Linked DNA regions of Homo sapiens: region 2 is linked to region 1. The links come from fine-mapping of genetic effects on gene expression. A gene starts in region 1. The other region holds a variant in brackets. All regions are shown on one strand. Distances are from middle to middle.

Evidence for each region. PIP is the estimated chance that this variant, and not a neighbour inherited with it, causes the effect.
Region 2: its variant is the best candidate, but not a certain one, in a credible set for the expression of ANKEF1 in fibroblasts (GTEx, PIP 0.89).

What each region holds. Positions count from the first base shown.
Region 1 is chr20:10,033,490-10,036,410 of GRCh38, forward strand. It overlaps ANKEF1 (ankyrin repeat and EF-hand domain containing 1), which reads left to right and starts at 1,498. Exons shown (of 11, transcript NM_022096.6): 1 at 1,498-1,844; 2 at 2,090-2,153. All of the region lies in intron 3 of SNAP25-AS1 (SNAP25 antisense RNA 1), which reads right to left. RefSeq lists a silencer at 1,289-1,838.
Region 2 is chr20:10,073,878-10,076,798 of GRCh38, forward strand. All of the region lies in intron 3 of SNAP25-AS1 (SNAP25 antisense RNA 1), which reads right to left. Among named protein-coding and RNA genes, the nearest start is that of ANKEF1, 40 kb to the left of the region's middle. RefSeq lists an enhancer at 489-1,688. The variant C/G (reference allele first, on the strand shown) is at 1,501.

The DNA of each region.
Region 1 (2,921 bases):
TAAACATGCATTATTTAGGGAGGCATTCAATGTAGCAATGCATTTTTAAGAGGCTGGGATGATAAATGTAAAATTCAGAACAGGTATTATCTCTGGGAACAGGAAGAGGAGGATGCAGTGTTGGGAAGAAATACATATAAGTACAGCAGTAGAGGCAGACTTTTTTTTCCTTTTCCTTTTTCCTTTATTTTTCCTAGCTTTCTTTTTCTTTAGCTATGGTATTTCTTTAGCTATGGTATGGTATGGTATGTACTTTCCATATATCATACAGTATATTTTGGTGTGCATGAAATAGTCCTTAATAACATTTTTATTATTTTTTATTTGACGTTTAAGTTCAGGGGTACATGTGCAGATTTGTTATATAGGTAAACTTGTGTCATGTGGTTTTGTTGCACAAATTATTTTCTCACCCAGGTATTAAGATTAGTACCCATTAGTTATTTCTCTTGATCCTCTCCCTCCTCCCACTCTCCACCTTCTACCCTCCAATAGGCCCCAGTGTGTGCTGTTCCCCTCTATGTGTCCATGTGTTCTCATCACTTAGCTCTCACTCATAAGTGAGAACATGCAGTATTGGGTTTTCTGTTTCTGCGTTAGCTTGCCAAGGATAATTGCCTCCAGCTCCATATTCCTGCAAAAGACATAATTTTGTTCCTTTATATGGTTGCATAGTATTCCATGGTGTATATGTACCGCATTATCTTTAGCCAGTCTATCATTGATGAGCACTTAGGTTGATTCCATGTCTTCGCTCTTAACATTTTTAAACAGTCTCTGAGTAGAATAGGGTAGGCTGGTGTAAGGAATTACTGTTTTTAATTGGAAGCAATTACATACTGCATTAAAAAGCATATATATATAGACACACATATATATGTTTTACATTCACATAATCAAACCAAAGCTTTCAGAATTTTCCGCCAAAAAGCATGTGTGGAGGGAGAGAGAGGGGTGTTATGGTGCATTTGTAGGCCCTGAAATAAAGTGATCTCCATATTTGCTTCCATTTGTGTATAAATATTTTTTAAGCATATATGCATCCTAGAGTATGGAAAGAAAATTTCTGGGAAGATTTGCAAGAATCTGTGGCAGTTGAGAGTAGGTTCACTTTCGCTTTATTGTGTAATTTATTGTATTTTTCATTTAATTGTACTTTGTAAACTAAATATTTATTGTATATTTTACTTCATTTTTTAATTGCCATATGCAGCTTTAATTTTATAACTAAATTACGTTCTGACCCAGGGCAGGAGGTGGGAGAAGAGAATGAGAGAAGGGCGGAATCCTCAAGACAGCAGCATTCTGCGCTCCGCCCTGGAACACCCAGCGCAGCTACCCCATCCCGCCCAGGCCGGCCACCTGGCGTCGAAGCCAGGCGCGAGGGGCGGAGGCGGAGGCGGGGGCGGGGGCGGAGGCGGAGGCGGAGGCGGAGGCGGAGGCGGAGGCGGAGGCGGAGGCGGAGGCGAGCACCGCCCCACCGCGCACGCTGCGGTTGCCCCGGCAGCCGCGCCCTGCGTGGCGGAAGCTCACAATCAGCCCGGTCCCTCCGGCTTCCACCCCGCCCCCTGCGCTCACCTGCCCGCGCGCTCGCCTTCCGGGGACCCGGGGCCCATGGACACATACACCCAGCCCTGCTGTCCCGCGCGCCAGCTCACCAGCCCTACCCAAGGGACATCATTCACGCCTGGGCGCCTCCGCCGGGCTCCGGGAGCCCAAGGTCGCGGCTGGGCCAGCGCTGAGCGTCAGAGGACGAGAGCAGGGGCCTCCCCGGTCGCCCCAGCAGGCCCAGGCACATAGGTGCCCAGAGATCCCTGGCTTCTGATCGCCCGGAAGACTAAGAGGTGAGCATGACACATGGCTTTTCCTTTGACGTTACATCTCTACCCCCTCCACTCCTCTCTTCTCCAGATTTTTCTGGAGACTAAAAAGTGGAAAGCACAGTAGAGAACCCCCAACATGTAAACTATCGCTTACACTTGTGGGTGAGCTGAAACCCGCAAAAGTTTGGTGTATTCATAAGGAGCCTATATTGAAGGACTTTGCTAAATGTTTTACAAGGATCATATCTCATTTCCTTTTCACACAGTCCCATGAAGTGGGCACCATTGCTATTGCCAGTTCACAGATGCAGAAACTGAGGTAAAAACTAGGTAGGTAGCATATCCATATTTATATCCAACTAGTTTGTGTAAATAATGATACAGGGAAGGGAGGATCACAACGGATTTCCCCACCTCAAACCCTACATTCCACTGTACCAAGCTTGTCTTCCTCCATTCCTCTTTCTAATGATCCTTCCTTGTCGCACAGCCCCCCTTTGAGAGTTAAATGACCTGAACACACACAGATTCCCACAGATTTTCATGTAATTTCCGAGTATTCAGACCCCGAACATGGACCTCAAGTCAAGACATTCTGCTCTATTCCACTACCTTGGTAGATGGTTAGATGTGACTAAGGTGGCCCAGGGTCATGCTGGGGAAAAGTACAGGTGTGCTTGTATGTGGAGGATCCTATATGCTGCTCAATTTACAAGGAACCCAGGACCCAAGGGCTACACTTGTGTGATTTCCTGCAGTGGGGTGAGCTCTTGGTCAGTCTTAGCAGTTGATTGTGAAGGACACTATACAGGGTGCTGCCCTCTCCCCAGCACTTCAGGGCTTTAGCTGGGAGGGAGGCAGTCCACAGGAAACCGACCCATGGACCTACTGAATTCATCACTGTAGCTGCTAATTAATTCTCCGTTAGAGATGGGTGCTAACAGAGGCAACATTGAAGTCCCTGATTGGGAAATCCTTATTTTCACAAATCAAGTGGCATTGATTCAGTCTAATCATTACCTATGTAGGAGCATCTTGCCCTATTCCATAGATGACACATATACATATGCAGTATGATGACACCGCACCTAATCGGAA
Region 2 (2,921 bases), 40 kb after region 1:
TGGTTTATAGTTTTGAGGGCGTTTTCTTTTTTTTCTGTTGCAGCTATGCGAAGATATGCTTATGTATTAATTGTTTTTCTTGCTAACACTGTATAAGCAAATTCAACTAAATTGATATAAGATTTTGCATACAAGATTAGAAAACCTGATACCTAGAATTATTTTAACACACATTTTTCAAGTTTGCTTATGACTTCACTAGGTTAGAACTTCTTAAAAAGCAATGCTTTAAACATTTTATTCATTCAACCTTTATTGAAAGCCAACATTGTGTTGCTGGATATGCAAAAATAAATCATGTATAGTGAGCTATTAAAAATTTTTATCAACTTACAAACTGAGTACAGGTACCTACTCTCACTGTAAAGCCTTAGCAAAAAAAACTGATTAAAATAATGCATAATAGTACATAAAAAATTAAAATCTTCCATTAGAGGAACAAAAATTATGAAGAATTTCTAGGAGATAGAAAATAATTATGTACAGAGAAGATAATTCAAAATACATGTTGGAGAAAATTACTCTTTCAAAAGTCAGACATGTCCAGAGAAACTGGAAGGGAGGAAGATAGAACTGATGGGAAACATGGCAGAGGGGGACACCCCCATCATGTGATGGCAAGAAATGCTGTTTCCACCTGAATGAATTCCCAAAATCTAAAAAACAGGAAAGTGAGATCTGAGCTGTATTCATAATTCTTTAACGTTTTCAGTATTCTCTCCAGCACTGCTTACTGAACTTGTTCAGGAGTGAAGCCACGTGTCCCCTGGGAGTGTGCTGCACTGGCAAGAAGAAATGGATGACTCACAATTTTGACAGTGACTCTATAGAAAGAAAAAAAATCTGTGACTCAGGGCCTTGGGGAGAAGTCATCTCTTCAAAAACTCATCTGATTTTTTTTCATGCCATGTAATTACTCAGAGAACATTAAGAGTCTAAAAAATTTCAACACTGGTGTCTAAGAGATATGGAATTACCTTTTGCCTGAGATGCTGGAAGCAGTGGGGGCAAGTTTGTAACTAGAAAGATTTGAGCAAGTCCAGGCTCAGGTATCCAAATTGCCCTCTTTGCTGTTGGCATAGGGGATTGAGATTTTCTGGGTCTTAAATAAGGTTTTATTTTTATCTAAGGAACTATAGTTTCTATGCAAATCCGAGGGGGCTTAGAGAAACCTAGCGTGGAAAAAAGAAACTGTCAAAGCAGTGTTTGGGGAAATGAGATGGGGAAATTTCACGAATAGTGGGCATAGAGAAACTGACTAGACAAGAGAACGTGAACATTATAATGATATCAAATGGAAAATTTGAAAGTTTATTTTGAAGGAGATGGCTAAAAACAATTTTATTCTGAATGAGAATGTGATTGCCAAGAATCAGTCTTCAAGCAATCCAGGATTTAAATTTCCTTGTTCTAGGCTCAGAATTTAAATAGGCAAAATGCAGGAGTTCGAGGCTGTATGAGCTATGATCATGCCTCTGCACTCCAGCATGGGTACAACAG[C/G]GAGACTGTATCTAAAAGAATAAAAATAAATAAAATAAAAAATAAATGGGCAACAGGAAAGACTTTAAGACCACTCTCCCCTCGCTGTTCACATGGCTGGGTTCTTCCCATTATCCAGGTTTCAATTTTAAGATCACATCCTTACGTATAGTTTTCACTGAATACTTAGCAATTTGATCAGCAATTTGATCTTATATAACACATTGAAATGCAACACGTGTGTTTCAAAGTCAAGTGATTAGAAGACTGTGGGCCCTAACTGCTGTTTATGGAAGTATGCATCCAAAGCAGATGCTGTCAGAGGTCCCATGTACACCCAATTCCATTAACAGTCTCTTCTGATTCTTTTTCTCACTGACAGCCTCTCAGCAAGTACTGGTGCTCTCCCTGAGGATTTTCTCTGGCTGCAGGAGCGTGTTTCAGCGTGCAGGGCAGACTGGAAGAATCTGTGAGTTGATGCCTCAGGAAGCAGCCCTCAACAGACATCAGACAGGAAATGCTGGATAAATATCCCAACTTCTCACCTCTTGGGTAGGACAACATTGAGGAATGTCCTGCAAAGTCTCCCTAGAGTCCCAAAGGGCCTGAGCCCCAGTTACCCACAGCAGCAATTCTGCACATTAGCACACTCCTTTAGTAATTTTCCTCCTTTCCTGTCTTATTTCCTCACTCCTGTCCATTGTTTCCTGGGATCACTCCCGAAGCAAATCACTTGCACTCACATCCACATCTCTACTTCTGGGGAGTCCCAAACTCACAAGACATTTTTCTACAAAGGAAAATCAAATATAAAAGAAAGTAGAGTAAGAAGAGTTGGGACCAACAATGACTGATGATTAAGCAGCAAGAATAGCGGCAATTAAAAACTGTAGATAACACTATGGATGCACTGATGACACAGTGTCTTGGCCAAGCCCTGTGGGAATTCATACTGTTTGCCTGTGTGCAGCAGCGGTGCAAGTTTTGCAGTGTTGTGAAATATTTAGTGGACGCTGACTTTCACAGAATCCTGAATTACTGTTCTCAATAAGCTCCAGTATTGTGCTATTTCAAATGTAGAAATACCAAAGTTTACTAATTGTGAGCTCTTAATATAGTAACTTACTAGCAGGTTATATAATGAAATGATATCATATGGCATATCATTTCCCATAATAAAGAAAAAGCTCTCAGTGTTCTACCAGTTTGGGCCCTTAAGACTCCTGATAGGCAGGTAGATGCTGGACCACACTCTCTTCCTGCACTAAATAGAGGTTGCAGACACTGGGTAAAACCCCAAGAACCACAAGCAGATGCCCACTGCTTTCCTGGCAGCCTGACCCTTGCACCAAAAATACTTTAAACAATAAGTTCCCAGTTCTTAAAAGAGCAAACATACCTTTAAAGGAAAAAGAAAAAATACACAAAAGTCTTACCGACCT